Regions from separate parts of the Homo sapiens genome. Here region 2 is linked to region 1. A link means that fine-mapping ties the variant in region 1 to the expression of a gene that starts in the linked region. Tissue or cell type: whole blood. Region 1 holds a variant in brackets; the other region holds the start of a gene. All regions are shown on one strand. Distances are from middle to middle.

The links. PIP is the estimated chance that this variant, and not a neighbour inherited with it, causes the effect.
Region 2: RYBP starts here. The variant in region 1 is fine-mapped to the expression of RYBP in whole blood (TOPMed, PIP above 0.99).

Annotation. Positions count from the first base shown.
Region 1 is chr3:72,554,957-72,563,061 of GRCh38, forward strand. It overlaps LOC124909394 (a long non-coding RNA gene), which reads right to left and starts at 6,863. Exons shown (of 2, transcript XR_007095960.1): 1 at 6,781-6,863; 2 at 6,218-6,393. RefSeq lists a silencer at 315-505. The variant A/G (reference allele first, on the strand shown) is at 4,617.
Region 2 is chr3:72,442,753-72,450,857 of GRCh38, forward strand. It overlaps RYBP (RING1 and YY1 binding protein), which reads right to left and starts at 3,871. Exons shown (of 4, transcript NM_012234.7): 1 at 3,744-3,871. The coding sequence starts at 3,871. RefSeq lists silencers at 4,188-4,247, 4,308-4,717.

The DNA of each region.
Region 1 (8,105 bases):
CACACCGAACTCAGAGCCAGTCACTGGGCTAGTTGAAAGGATCCCAATGCAAGCAAAATGCAGACACTCTGAGACCAGGGAAGAGAAATTAAATTCAGTTTCATTTTGCTTTTTAGGGCAGAAGAAAGGGCTAGAAGAAGTAAAGCAGAGATGAGAAGGATGTAAGAGGAATTTGATCATCTAAAAATTGGGGCACACTTTATAATTCTGTCTTTAAAAAACGATTCGGGGCTGGTTGCGGTGGCTCACACTTGTAATCCCAGCACTTTGGGAGGCTGAGGTGGGAGGATCACCTGAGCCCAAGAGTTTGAGACCAGAGTGGGCAACATAGCAAGACCCCTATCTCTACAAAACAAATTTAAAAGTTAGCCAGGTACGGTGGCACGCACCTGTAGTCCCATCTACTCGGGAGGCTGAGGTGGGAGGATAGCTTGAGCCCAGTAGTTTGAGGCTGCAGTGAGCTATGATCTCACCACTGCACTCCAGCATGGACAACAGAGTGAGACCTTGTCTCAGAAAAAAAAAAAACAACAAAACAAACAAACAAAAAACAGATTTGGGGTGTGTGCCCCAAGTTGCTGGAGAAAAAGAGGACCAGGTTGACCCTAACCCTCTGGAGGCTTCAAAATGTCTCCCTGTGTGTTGGATGGTGTCACTTGAGGTCAGTTTCCAGGAAAGATAGCAAGGTGTACTATAAGAAACCACCTTGATATGTGGGGGCTTAAGACAAGCCTTTGTTATTGCTCTCAAGTCTATTTCTCAAATTAGGCATGTCCACTGATCTGGGTCCAGCGGAGCTGACCTCCACTGGGCTCACTCAGACATCTAACATCAGTGACAGGTTGTCTGGGGCTGTCTAGTCTTCGATGGCCTCACTTACACATCTGGAGGCCAGCAGGCTGTTGGCTGGGGTGATGGTGGAGTTTCAGCCTTGTGTCTCTCACCATCCAGCAGGCTAGCTCAGGCTTGTTCACATGGCAGCAGTGCAGTTCCAAGGGAGGGAGCAGAAACATGCAAGGACAGATGCAGTCGGCCACACACTCAATCAGCTGCGTATTATCCATGGGGGTGCCAGCAATGATTCAAGAGGTGGGAAAATAGGTGCCACCTCTTGATAAGGTCATGCTGCAAGGAGTGGGACATTGTGGCCATTTTTGAAAAAAAATTTACAGATTGGTTTATGGAAGCAGAAATATAAAACAATAGGGACAAACAATAGATAAATAATGAGGGTAGAGGAGAGGAGGTGGGGGGAGGAAGATTTTTTTTTAGTGCCAAAACACTAGTTTATTTATTGATTGATTCTTTTAACAAATACTTAGTGAGCATCTACTGTGGACCAGGTGCTATGCTGGCCCTGAAGGTATAACAGGAGGTAGACCTAGAACCTGCCCTCCTGGGTCTTACAGTTTAGAGCAGGAGACAGAAAAGGAAACCTACCCTACAATTCACCATGGCAAGTGCTATGTTAGGGGAAGTGCGGACAACTTTGGGGACTCACAGTAGGAATACCTAACCGGTCTCAGATGACAGAAGGAACCAGGGAAGGCTTTAGTCATAAACTCTGAAGCAAAATCCATGGTATGAACCATGCCAAAGAGGAGCTGGAGAAGAGAGAAAAGCAACTGAGAAAATGGAATCCCAGAGACAAGGGAGAGTACAGCTTGTATGGCTGGAGTAAAAAGCTGGAAGATGAGAGTTGAGAGAAGCAGATAGAGACTTATGCAAGAGAAGCAAAGGAGGCCGGGCACGGTGGTTCATGCCTGTAATCCCAGCACTTTGAGAGGCCAAGGTGGGTAGATCACTTGAGCTCAGGAGTTCGAGACCAGCCTGGCCAACATGGTGAAACCCCGTCTCTACTAAAAATATGAAAATTAGTCAGGCGTGGTAGCGCATGACTGTAATTCCAGCTACTTGGGAGGCTGAGGCACGAGAATTGCTTGAACCCAGGAGGAGAAAGTTGCAGTGAGCCAAGATCGCACCACTGCACTCCAGCCTGGGCAACAGAGAGAGATTCTGTCTCAAAAACAAGAAAGAAAGAGAGAGAAGTGAAGGAGTTAACACTTCACAAGGAAAGATTTTTTTTTTTTTGAGACGGAGTCTCGCTCTGTCACCCAGGCTGGAGCGCAGTGGCATGCGACCTCAGCTCACTGCAAGCTCCGCCTCCCGGGTTCATGCCATTCTCCTGCTTCAGCCTCCCAAGTAGCTGGGACTACAGGCGCCCATCGCCACGCCCAGCTAATTTTTTGTATTTTTAGTAGAGACGGGGTTTCACCACGTTAGCCAGGATGGTCTTGATCTCCTGACCTCATGATCCACCCGCCTCAGCCTCCCAAAGTGCTGGGATTACAGGCGTGAGGAAAGATTTTTAACTTGCCAGATTAGATTGGCATGTTACAAAGACCACTTGCTCATCTTGGTATGGAAGGTGGACATTTTGGGGAGAAGATTTTTGTAGGAATGGGGAAGATGAGATTTAGGAAATACTGAGCAATCCAAGCATAAAATGATGGCTGAACTAAAAGGAGACTATAGGAATACAGAGTGGTGAACACACTGGAGAGATCCTTAGAAGGAAAATGCTCCAGGATTGTGTAGGAGAGGGCAGACTTTCCCTCTACCCTATGAGGCACTTGATAATTGCATCTATGAAATCAGCTGATAGTAGGCAGATGAACAGGTGATATAGTTTGGATGTGTCCCAGTCCAAATCTCATGTCGAATTGTAATCTCCAATGTTGGAGGTGGGGCCTTGTTGGAAGTAAATGCTCGGTGCTGCCAAGTGAAAATAGCACTCAGGCAAAAGTTCTCTCAGCAAGGCAATTTACTTCTATAGAAGGGTGCGTCTCACAGATGGAGCAATGGCGAGAGCACACCGGACGATGGAGGGGAAGGGGTTCTTATTCCTGACACAGGTAGCCCCTACTGTTGTGTCTTTCCCCTATTGGCTAGGGTTGGACAGCACAGTCTAAGCTAATTCTGATTGGCTATTTTAAAGAGAGCAAGGGTATGAGCCAGAGTGGTGGGGTGAGTAGTTTTGGCGGGAGGGACAGTTACAGAGCAGGTGACTAAGGATTACTAAGGACAGAACAGGCGACTAAGGATGCCTAAGGACAGAACAGGTGATAGAGGCTAGGAGGGGGTTGTTTACTGAAACTACGGGCAAGGAAGGTAAAGAATGAGGAAGTTAGCTTTAAAATGGAGAACAAAGAACAGGGAAGCTGAACGTACTGACATATTGGTTCTTTGAAGAAGAACTCAGAACTTATTGTACTTAACAATTTTTCTCCCTCTTGAATTTTAAAGGAAGTTAACAGGCTAAACTTGGAAGAGGAATTTACTATATCCTACAGCCTGGTAGGAGGTGATTGGATCATAAGGGCAGATTTCTCATGAATGGTTTAGTACCATCCCCCTGGTACTGTCCTCAAGATAGAGATGGTGAGTGAATTCACAAGCAATCTGGTTGTTTAAAAGTGTGTAGCACCTCCTGCCTCTCTCTCTTGCTCCTGTTTTCGCCATGTGACCTGCTGACTCCCTTTTGCCTTCTGCCATGATTGTAAGTTTCCCGAGGCCACCCCAGAAGCCAAGCAGACATCAGCATAATGCTTCCTGTACAGTTGAAGAGCCATGAGCCAATTAAACCTCTTTTCTTTATAAATTACCCAGTCTCAGGGTTTTTTTGTTGTTTTGTTTTGTTTTTGTGGCAGGGTCTCACTCTGTTGCCCAGGCTAGAATTCAGTGGCGCAATCTCTGCTCACTGCAACCTCTGCCTCCTGGGTTCAATCAATTCTCATATCTCAGTCTCTTAAGTAGTTGGGATGACAAACATGCACCACCATGCCCGGCTAATTTTTGTGTTTTTAGTACAGATGGGATTTCACCATGTTGGCCAGGCTGCTTCAGGTATTTCTTTATAGCAATGGGAGAATGGACTAATACTAAAGAAGAAAAGGTGAACACATTGATTACATGCACAGAGGCATTACATGAAAGAAAAGTGAATACCCCCAAATCCAGTAAGATCTAGAAGTTTAGATCCTGTCTTCATGTATGACAGGGGAGGGGGTTTTGGCAACTTAAGGGAAAATGGATGATTTGGGGGAAAGATAAATGGGCCCTCAGAAGAATACACAACAACCTGTGACAAAGTCTGTCTTGGCATGGCATCGACCTCCTGTCCCCTCTCCTGTGATAGGAGCCAATCTTCCCTGGTTGATGAGAGTCCAGGGAGGGGATTCATGACCACTGAGTTTCTTTTGGGGAGTCCACTTTAGGCAGATAAAGGGAACCCAGAGAAAGCTCTGCCTGTATTGCTATTCCCTGAATGCCCTCAGGCCAAAGCAATCAGAATACCAAACCAGCATGTTTTGGGGTGACATTTCCTGAATGCCTTCATCTGGTAATAACTGCAAGACAGCAGAAAATTCTAGAATGTTGTCTGGAATTTCTAGCTTCAGTGAGATGGATAGATGGTGGTACTATTCAGCAAGATAGAAAACCTTGGTTAAGGATAGTTGCCTTCATTGAGCACAAAATTTGATTCTAAGCTTCCCAGCAGCAAAGGCAAAAGGAAAACAAGATAAATGACCTCATCTCAAGGTTCCCTAACACGA[A/G]CCACACCAGTGCACTATAGAAACCAAACTTCCTCATAAGGTACACAAGGGGAATTGACTGAGGGGATCTCTGTAGAAAGGAGTGTGAACCAAATAAAAGAAAAGGCCTTTGGCAGTAGTTCTATAAAAGATGCAGAAATGTTCTTTGCAGGCCTGTTCGGTATATCAGCATCGACCCCTGATAAAAGCTGAGAGCAAGATATTAAATCACAGCTCTGTAGAGTAATTTGTTCAAAAAAAGTCAGTGGAATGGCCTCTGGGTACCTAACTTGCTAAAGAGTTTTGAGCTCCCAGCATCTAGAGAATTGAGAGATTGGACAAATGAAAGGCACTTGCACTAATTAATACATTTTATAAACTTGAAATTAGGAGTTCAAGACCTACATGTGTAACTTAGTGCCCCAGGATAATTTTAAAGGGAAAAATATGAAAGTCCCAATTCCAGCAAATACCATTAACAACATAATCAAATAACTTAGGGCTTCATTTTTAAAATGTTGAAGCAATTAGAATCCATTGTGGCCTGGGCGCGGTGGCTCACGCCTGTAATCCTGGCACTTTGGGAGGCCAAGGCAGACAGATCACTTGAGGTCAGGAGTTCAAAACCAACCTGGCCAACATGGTGAAATCCCATCTCTACTAAAAATACAAAAATTAGCCAGGCATGGTGGCATGCGTCTGTAATCCCAGCCAGCTACTTGAGAGGCTTAGGCAGGAGAATCGCTTGAACCCGGGGGGCGGAGGTTGCAGTGAGCTCAGATAGAGCCACTGCACTTCAGTCTGAGCAATAGAGCAAGACTCCGTCTCAAAAAAAAAAAAAAAAAAAAAAGAATCCATTGTGGGTTTTTTTTTTAATTAAATTTTTTCCTGATTACTAAGGTAATTCAGGTTTATTATAGAAATTAGGAAATTTCGGAGAAGTAGAAAGAAAAAAGTCATCTCTAATCCCAGCAAAGATATCTAACTGCTGTTAATATTGTGAGATATATATAAATATATATATATACACACACATACATATATGTCTTTCCAATCATTTTTCTAGGCCTACATATAAGTAAATATTTTTCTCTTAAAAGAATTAGGATAAGGCTGGATCAACTGTTTTACATCCTGCTTTTTTTCACTACATTTGCTAATGACAAATAGAAGCCTTTGTTTTAAAGGAATTTAATGTTCCAATGACTTCTCTCAATTTCTCAAAATCTGTGTTTTTGTCACTCGTGTGGACTTTGGTGTAGTAACTCTGCTTGTCCTACTAGCTTTCTGAAAAACAGAAGAGAGGCTGGTGAACTTGACTTTTTCTTGCCAAGGACTTAATTGTGTCATTTATAATAGAGATCTTGGGGCCTGGCATTTTAGCACACTGAGAAAGAAATATGCTAATGTGTTGTCCTTCACAGAGAGCACAAGAATAATTAGCCACCCCAGGGCCACTCCTAAACAGGTTGTTGAAGCCTTGTTGCCTCCCTTCCTGGGGAACTTTCCAGAGGGAAATTCTTCCCTAGTAACTATTCTACTGGCATGCAACTTCAATGCTTCCTTTCTCTTCCCTGCAATGTCATTGTGGTAGATTGTAAAAAGGGACACAATACTACTTCTCTCATCAGAGATTAAGTTTATTTTCTAAGCCCTTGAATCAGGGCTGACCTTGTGATTTTTGTTGATCCGTAGAAGTGGCGGATGTGACAACGTGTCAGTTCGAAGCCTAGGACTTAAGAGGTCTCACTATTCTTGTTGCTCCTTTCCACCAACATGCAAACAAGCCTGGGCTAGCCTGTTGGGTGAAAAAAAAAAAACACTTGGAGAGAGGCCCCATTCATTCCAGCCAAGACCATTATAAACCAGCAGCCCCAGTGACCATGGGGGAGCCCAGTGGAAACTAGCTAAACCCAGACCAGACCAGAAGAACTGAAACTGATGACTTACTAAACTGAGAGCTAAATAAATGGTAGTTGTTTTGCGTTAGTAAGCTTTAGGGTAGTTGATTACACAGGAAAGGCTGGCTGATAGAATCACCTGGGGCGGGGGCAGAGGTTGCTTTATTCTGTTTACGATAAAGTATTAATGTAAAAGCATTAATTGCGTAGCACCAGGTATGTAATAAGCATTCAACAAATGGCATTAGTATCAAATGAGATGAGGGTATTGGCAGGGCTGGTACCTTCTGGAGGCTTCTGGAGAGAATCCATTTCCCTGCCTTTCACAGCTTCCAAAGGCTGCCTGCATTCCTTGGCTTATGGACACTGGATAAGACACAAAGACACAAAGGCAAAAACTATATCTATTTTGATTATGGGCACTAGTAGGTGGTCCCTAAATGATACTAATGCCATTTGTTGAATGCTTATTCCATACCTGGTGCTATGCAATTAATGCTTTTACATTAGTTGTTACTTTATCATAAACAGAATAAAGCAACCTCTGCCCCCGCCCCAAAAAGATGTGCACATTTCAATACCCAGAACCTGTGAATATGTTTTCTTACATAGCAAAGGGAATTTTGAAGATGTGATTGAGTTAAGGCTCTTTAAATGGAGAGATTATTCTGGATTATCCAGGTGAGACCAATGTAATCACAAGGCTCCTTATAACAGGGAGGCAGGAGGATCAAAGACGAAGAAAGGAGATGTGACTATGGAAACAGGATGAAGTGATGTGCTGTGAAGATGGAGGAAGGGGCCACAAGCCAAGGAATGCAGGCAGCCTTTGGAAGCTATGAAAGGCAGGGAAATGGATTCTCCTCAGAAGCCTCCAGAAGGTACCAGCCCTGCCAATACACTGATCTCATACTTCAGACCTCTAGGACTATAAGAGAATAAATTTGTGTTGTGTTAAGCCACAAAATTTGTTACAGCAGGAATAGTAAGCTAATACAGATTTAATTCCCATGAAACTTTATAAAGTACACACTACTGTCATCATTTCCATTTTACTTATGAGGAAACTGAGCCTCAGACCAGCTAAGTAACTTTCCCAGCAGTTAAGTGGCAGCACTATGTCAAAACTGGCCTCCTAAACCTTACACTCTAGAGCCTCCCACTGGGTCAGAGAAAGACCACAGGATTTGGAGTCCAGACGGGAAGCACCTCTATAAAAAAATTGAAATGAGGAGTTGGATCAGATGACTTCAAACGATCCCTTCCTGTCCTAATTTTCTGTGACTTCTAAACACTGAATCCGCATCTTTCAGTGCCAGGTTCCCAAACTTGCAAGAGGAGCAGGTAGGACTCAGAGGGGCTCAGTCACATCTGAAGAAGGAGTCAAAAGAAATCTCCAGAAATGGAGTGTGGACCATACCAAACCAGGACCTTTAAAAAAGGTAACAGGGGGCTGGGCGCGATGGCTCACGCCTGTAATCCCAGCACTTTGGGAGCCCAAGGCGGGCGGATCACGAGGTCAGGAGACCGAGACCATCCTGGCTGACACGGTGAAACCCCGTCTCTATTAAAAAATATATATATATAAAAATTAGCCGGGCGTGGTGGC
Region 2 (8,105 bases), 110 kb before region 1:
ACATTCATGCATTTGTAGTTTTTTTCTTCTACTTTTAAAAGCCGGTATCCTCTTTCTTGAGACTGGCAAAGCAGGATGGGAAATACTACTTTACCACTTAAGAAAGGGATAGTGTTTCTCCCCCAGCCACTTGCCACCTTACACACACATTCTAACATGCACTTTTATTTTCTACCTTGAAAGGCTCAGGGTACATCAGCATGGTAGGGAAGCAACCTGTTGCCCATGACTTCTCCATTCTGTTCTGTTAGACTTACAGAACGGATATAACGAAACCATTTGACATGATGGAAATGTTCTAAAACTGGGTTGCCGTGATGGCTGCACAACTCTTTAAAATGACTAGAAATCACTGATTTGCAGACTTACAATGGGTGTTATAAGTAAATTATCACTCACTCCTGCAAGGCAGAAAGATCACTTGAGGTTAGGAGTTCAAGACCAGCCTGGTCAACAGGGCGAAACCTTGTCTCTACAAAAATTACAAAACTTTGCCGGATGTGATGGTGCACACCCGTAGTCCCAGCTACTCAGGAGGTTCAGGTGGAAGAATCGCTTGAGCCACGGAGGTTGAGGCTGTAGTGAGCCATGAGCATGCCACTGCACTCCAGCCTGGGTGACAGAGAAAGACCCTGTCTCCAAACAAAAGGATATATATATAACCAGAAAAGGCACAAAGAGTGGACAGTCTAGTTAGAAAAACAAGTTTATCAAAAAACCAAAGACACCCAACACATACTGATAATACATCTAAAATATAGATCTCTCCTGCTGCCCCTGAACCTCCACACAGCCTAGGCCACCTTCTTCCCTTAACAGATTCCTTAAGACCATCTCACCTTTCATTCTGCTCTATTGCTGCTCCAAAAAGAAAAAAAAGACCTCATTCTCAATCACCTTAACAATTCCACCTGCAGAACTAAAAATATCTGACGTACATGGTAATAGTGAAAAGGTGACAGGTGATTTTTTAATTCTCCTTGTCCAAAAGAAGTGGAGAAGAAGGAATCCTTCTAACTGATTCCCTAAGCCAGACCCCTGCTTCCGTACAGCCTTTATAATTGGAATTATGGTCATTCCCATACACGGCTTATCAACATTTTAACACTCCCCTCTCCTCTCTCCAATCCCTTCAGCAGCATCTTTCATATCCTACGAATTTAATAAGTGTTCTTCAGACGAATGGCAGTATTTTCCCAATCACATCAGCAATATCAATTCTACCCTCAAAGGGCAAATATAGTTCTCTATCATACTGGCCTACCACTAAGTCATAGGTGGTTTCCTTGGTTGACTGGTAGATGAAGGTGACAGTGATGAGAATGATCAAAAACTGCAAAATAACCACCGGCTAGCCAACTAGCTAGAATTGTTAAAATACATAACACCAGCTCAGAGCAATAAAATACAATTTCTGTGCCACGAAACAAATTATTCTAAAAATCACAAATATTGCCTATTACCCAGCATCCAAAACACAAGTTTTCTACTGCCATCAATCTATACCAAGTCTGATTAAAACTACACAAGATAGAAAATGTCAAGTTCATACTCAAACTTTTGAGGTACAAAAAAAATACAAGAGGGCCAAGAAAAAAACATGGCAGTAACCAGTATCACAAAGGGATTAACCAACAGTTAACACACAAGACAGGATAGGATGAAAACCTGTCAAACTCACTTCTCCACATAAAACCTGTTCATAATGTAGGAAAACCAAAACGTTATTTGCATTCCAACCAACGATGACTTCTGAATAGATCTAAAACACCAAAATATTGACAATAACCAAAATGAAACCAACTGTGGCCAGCTAAGAGTGTCATGAATGCACACAGTTTTCAGTCCTCACACCTGTTAAATCTGTATTCAAATTCTATTAAATGACATCAGAAAATTACTCGAAGACCCTTAAAGTAGACGCCTTTCCCTGTTCCTGAATAGACTCTAAAATATTTTCACTGTAAATAATTCAGTAGTTTTAACTAAGTTTCAACAGTCATCTGCGGCTCTGAAAAAACTTTAAACATACATACATACCTTTTTTAAAAGTCAACACCTTCCATGTGCTTCCGAAAAATTGATGAGTAAGGTTTTTTAAAATACATGTTAAAAGCTGAAATGCACTTCATTATGAGATAATCATTCCCAGCGATAAATCAGACATAAACTTTTGAATTTGGTTTACGTTTCTCTTCACCAGTAATGTTCTCAAGTTCTTAGGAGTTTCCTAATCATTTACTTGAACACCATCTACGGTAACACTCAAAGCAAAACCACAATAAAGAGGTTTGGCCTCTGAGGGCTTCTACATGTAAAAAACATTACTCATAAATAATATACAATCACTACTGCTTTAAATAACAAATACATTTCTAAAAACTTTCATGCCATTTGATGGAATTCCCTATTTTAGACAGCAAAACAAAATCTATGAAACTACTGATGCGTGTTTTTTACTTTAGATATATTCCATGATAATACAAAACACCGACAAAAATTTCTTAAAACAACGTATGGAGTAATATTTTTAGTTTTTGATTATTTTTATTCAAAGGTATCATCATTTAAAGAGTGCAATTCACAGAAACAATAATTAGGCCAATTAATCTCAGAGTTAGATTATTTTAGGTTGCCCAATAATCCTATTTAATCCCAAGTATAAATAAACCAATGAAACCTTAACATGACATATTCATCTAATCAAAGAACAATATCCAGTTGGAACTGTGAAGTACTACTACACAGTCACACTGAAATGTCACCAATTCAAAAATAAGTACCTGATAAAATGAGACTTTTGGCAATCAACTGTAATGTTCTAAAGGATCCACCAAAAACTCATTCTTGTCTCACACACACACCCAATGCCTGTTCATTAAATGACACCAAGAACAGTTTAACTTCAAACTCTAACGCCAATGAAACAAATTCAGACATAAATTAAAAGATGACCAAAAGACTACATGAGTCTTGACATTTTATCCAAGTATTTATGAATGTTAAATCTAAAGTAGTTAACTCGTTTTAACATCACATGCAGTTTACGACCTTCATCAAAATGAAAAGGAATTCTTTCAACATTCTTTTCATCATCACAGAGCTTTAAACACAAACTTCCACAGTCACTGCTCATTTCACCATTTTACAAAATCGTCCCCCATCACCACCCCACATAAGCTAGTCAAAGAAAAAAAAAACTGACAGCTCAGTCTCCCACAAAATGCACTTACTTTATCAAATACCGACATTTATTTTCAAGTGCAAGAAAGTAACAGACATTTGCAGCTCAAGACAGGAAAAGCACAGCCAGCCTTACTACCCCCACTAAATTTCTCAGACAAGAGAAAAGTAACTCGGGACAGGCAAATTAAAACCATTCTACACATGGCAAAAATATAAAACATCTATGTCCTACAATCCATAGCGATAGTACTGCTTCCTCTCTTCCCCAGCCAATACCAATAAGCCAATAGACACAAGTGTCAAATAAATCCAGTGTCCGTTTGAAATAAAATGAAAACCTGGAAAAATTCCCTCCCATAAATCATTTAGCGAACACAAGGCTTTTCACCCAACACTTAATACACTCAACCCAAAAACACACACAACCCACCCGCAAATACAAAAAAAGCCGTAATCAACAAGTTGGAAAAAGGGCAGAAAGTAAGGCTCACTACCCTCTCACTTAAAAAAAAAAAAAAAAAGTCCTTTAACAAAAGGTAACACAGATCTTCAAGTACCTGGTGGAGGTGCCTTTCCTCACATCGCAGATGCTGCATTTAAAGGCTTCAGCACTGTTTCTGAAGGTGCAGACGCTACAATCCCAAAACCCTTCGTCTGCGGCAGGTTTCGCTTGTCTTTTTGGCCTTCCGAGGAGTGGAGAGTGGGGGAAAAGGGAGGGAAGAGGCAGGGAGCAGGAAAACGGGGGAGAGACAGCAAAACACAGACGCGGGTGAGCCGTCGTAATTTCGCAGGAATCCAGTGCTGGAAACTTCGCTCGGGAGACCACCCACCCACCCTTTCCGGGGACTGGAAGAGAGAGCGAGGAAGGGAACCGGGCGCCCCCACTGGCACCCTGCAAGCCCCGGGCCCGGGCCGGATAGCCTCGCACACCAGGCGGTGGCGGCGGCGCCCCGGGAAGGGCCGCGGCGGGCGCAGGAAGCGGGCGGACTTGTGGACTTGAGCGTGGGGCTGGGGGGGCCGGGAGGGGAGCCGCGGGCCGGATCTGGAGGGGGCGCGCAGGGGCAGCCCGAGGCCGGCGACGGGGAGTGGGCCGGCTCCTTCCCTCTCCACTCCCAAGCTCGCGCCCTCCCTCCCTCCCCACCTGGTTAAATCCATCACAGTCTCCGGACGAGACTAGTCCCCGCCAGCGCCGCCTCCGCCGAGTGACTGACGAGGGGCGGGGCCTGGCGCCGCGCGTCACGCGCCGTGCGGCCAATGGGAGGGCGGCGGCCGGCGCCGCGAGGGCGGAGGCGGGGCGCGGGGGAAGGCGGGGCGTGGCGGACGTGGGCCGGGCGGTCGGTGTGCGTGCCCGGGAGTGTGTGCGCGCTGGGGGCGCGCGTGCCTGTCGGTGGCCCCGCGGCCCGGCGCGGCGGAGCGTGCAAGCCCGGCGGGGCGCACGTGGCCGCGCCCGGGAGCTGGCAACTGGCTTCGGGCCCCGCACGGCGCCCCGTGAGGCTGTTGCCGGGACCCCGGCCCCGAAGCCGCCCCGGGGAAGTAGTTCCACGCAGTTTGCGCGCGCCGCGGGAGCTTGCAACAGCCTCACCGCTCGCAGCGCCTCGAGGCTTGCAGTGCCCAGGGGCCGACAAGGTCCACCTTTGGACCGCGTTCCCCCGCGCCCCTCTGTTCCTCTGCCATGCGGAGCTTTGTATTTGCCTCTTCTGAAGTCCCTGCGTCCGGCCGAGACGCTGGCCCGAAGCCCCACTCCCTGTCAGGCCCCTGTCGCGGGAGGGAACAGTAGAGAAAGGGCGTGGCATAACTAAATGCCCCCAGGCCAGACTCTGAGCTTCTGCTGGCGGACTCCTCCTGGGATCCTCCTCTCCCCTAGAGTCTAAATAGGGCGTTTCCTTAGGGAAGTTGCTATTCAAATTCTGGCGACCACATGCCCGCATTAAAACCTCGTGCCTCAGCTCCTTCATCTCCAAAATGGGGCTCATCCTCCCAGGGTTGTTTTGAATATTCGGAGAAATCAGGCATGGAAGGTTCGCTGATGGATGCCTGGTATTCACGAAGGACCAAAACAAGATATTGGGTATTAGGAGCTATTATAACTGGGCCTGAATTGTGCACCATTTCCCCCGCGTTCGATTTTTGAAGTCGAGGAACAGGGTAGTGCCCTTCACTTTCTGCCCTGCTCCAAAAACGCTTGCCAAATTGACTTGAACGTGACTCAGGACCCTCTGTCCTCAGGCAGGGAGATCTGGTAGGAGGACGACCCCAGATGATAAAAGACACAGACGCGGCTGTGCTGAAGCCCCAGGTTAGGGGAGGGACGGAGTCTTAGAATGCTGCTAGGAGTTGGGGCCCGGGGGTGGGGGGATTGGAGTTAAGACAGACCCTCAGCCAGGTTTATATGCAAATATAAAATAGGTTGTTATCAGGACTGCCCCATGGAAGGGAAGCATATCAGGGCTTGCCACCAGGGAAGCTCACTGAGACTGAGCACCCAGGGAGCAGAAATTCCTAGAGATCAGTCCAGGGATCAGAAGGGAGAGAATAAAAGAGAGAATGAATGTGTCAACAATAAGTTTGATCAGCACGCAGTGTCCTCTCCAGGCAGGCGCACCCAGGAGGGCCAGGAGAAGCAACACTGTTTAGCAAGGGTCAGCAACCTCTCAAGGCCTCAATGCCACAGCTGCCTCCTTAGGGGAGGGATGAAAGAAGGAAGAGGAAGAGAGAGGGATAGCGTTCTAGGGGTAAAAGGGCCGTAGAAAGCCAAAGGGTACGTACACAAGCCATGGCCCAGTGCAGCTGCGCCATGGAGCAGCCTTGGCCTCTGGTGTCTCCCTGGCATGCTCCCAGGACTCTGCCCCTGGCATGAAGGTCGTGACAGAAACGGGGCACTAAGAAATCCTCACTGGAAGAGTGGCCTCCGGGGAGGTAGCTGGGAGCCATAGTAGTGGAAAGGAGACTTTGTTATTATTCTATACATAGAATAAAATACACAAATTTTCACACTGCAGCTTAGTGCATACATCTACACCCCTCTTTCCACCATTAGAACAATAAAACATTTTATCCTCCCAATGAGTCATCCCTCACTTAGGTAACCACAATTCCGACTTCTGTCACCAAAGATTAGTTTTGCCTGTTCTTTAAGGTCATATGCAGGGGTCATATGGTCTGTACTCTTGTGTCTGGCTGGCACCTTTCGCTCAGCATATTTGTGATATCCATCCACGTTGTTGCCTACATCAATAGTTCATTTTTGTTTGCTTAAGTGTGTAGAATTCCATTGCAAATACACTGTAATTTATCCATAGGAGGTTGACTGTTTTAGTATGTCGTTTTGTATCTTTGTCTTGTGTTATCTTTTCAAAAAAGAAAAAGTTTTTAAAAATGTGTTTAAGAAGGGCCAGGCACGGTGGCTCACACCTGTAATCCCAGCAGTTTGGGAGGCCGAGTGGGTGGATCACCTGAGGTCAGGAGTTCGAGACCAGCCTGGCCAACATGGTGAAACCCTGTCTCTACTAAAAATAAAAAAAAAATAGCCGGGCGTGGTGATGGGCGCCTGTAATCCCAGCTACTCGGTAGGCTGAGGCAGGAGAATTGTTGGAACCAGGGAGACGGAGGTTGCAGTGAGCCAAGATTGCACCATTGCACTCCAGCCTGGGCGACAGAGCAGGACTCCGTCTAAAAAAAAAAAAACCAAAAAATCAAAAAAATGTGTTTAAGAAAAACAATTTCAGAGTAGAGAACTATCTCTAGGAACTTATCAGACCCAAGGATCACCATGTGGTTGTAACTTTAGAGGCTCTAATTTCATTCAGATGTTGGAGGCAAATATCTATTGAAAGTCTCCTTGTAGTTGTATGAGTCAAATGGGACTATTTCTGGTACAGTGTGCTCCAGAGTGCTGTGGCTCTAGGCAGAGCGTACTGTGATTCTGGAGTGGGGTTTAGAGGCTGAGCTGGGTGGGGAACTAATTTTCCTCTAAGATGTCATCTTGGACCAGTATGGGGTGAGAGTAACAGTGAGAGTTGCCAGCCAGTCCCTGCTCCTCTGTTTCCTCCCTTGAACCTCCATTTCATATTTCATTTGACAAAAGGGTTCTACTGCTTTAAAAATTATTTGATTGAGAGGCCGAGGCAAATGTTTCACTTGAGGCCAAGAGTTTGAGACCAGCCTGGCCAACATGGTGAAGCCCTGTCTCTACTAAAAATACAAAAATTAGCCGGGCATGGTGGTGCACTCCTGTAGTCTCAGCTACTTGGGAGGCTGAGGTGTGAAGATCACTTGAGCACAGTAGGCGGAGGTTGTAGTGAGATGAGATCACACCACTGCACTCCCGCCTGGGCAACAGAGTGAGACTCTGCTTCAAAGAGAAAAAAAAAATTGTTTGAAACCCGTGGTTTTAGTGTAGATGCTGGTTAGAAGCACTGGCCAAGAAATGTCCAGTATAAATGTTTCCACAGATACATAAGACACATTCGAAGTCTACATTTTGACTTCCTTCCCCTCATTCGCTTCACTCACACCGGCTTCCTGGCTGTTCCTAAAACAGTTCCCTACCTTCAGGGCCTCAGAGCCTTCACACTTACTGCTTCCTTGGCTTGGAATGCTCTTTGCGCAGATACCCACATTCATTGTCAGCTGCCTCAATTCCTTCAGGTCTTTACGCAAAAGTCAATTCCTCACTGAGATTTTCCCTGGTCACGCAATCTACATCTGCATGTGTTTTGTTTCTTTTCCTTTCCTTTTCTTTTTTTTTTTTTTTTTTTTTTTGGAGACAGAGTCTTGCTCTGTTACCCAGGCTGGAGTGCAGTGGCAGGATCACAGCACGGCTCACTATAGCCTCAACCTCCTGAACTCAGACAATCCTTCCACCTCAGCCTCCTGGGTAGCTGAGACTACAGGCATGTAATACCACACCCAGCTAATTT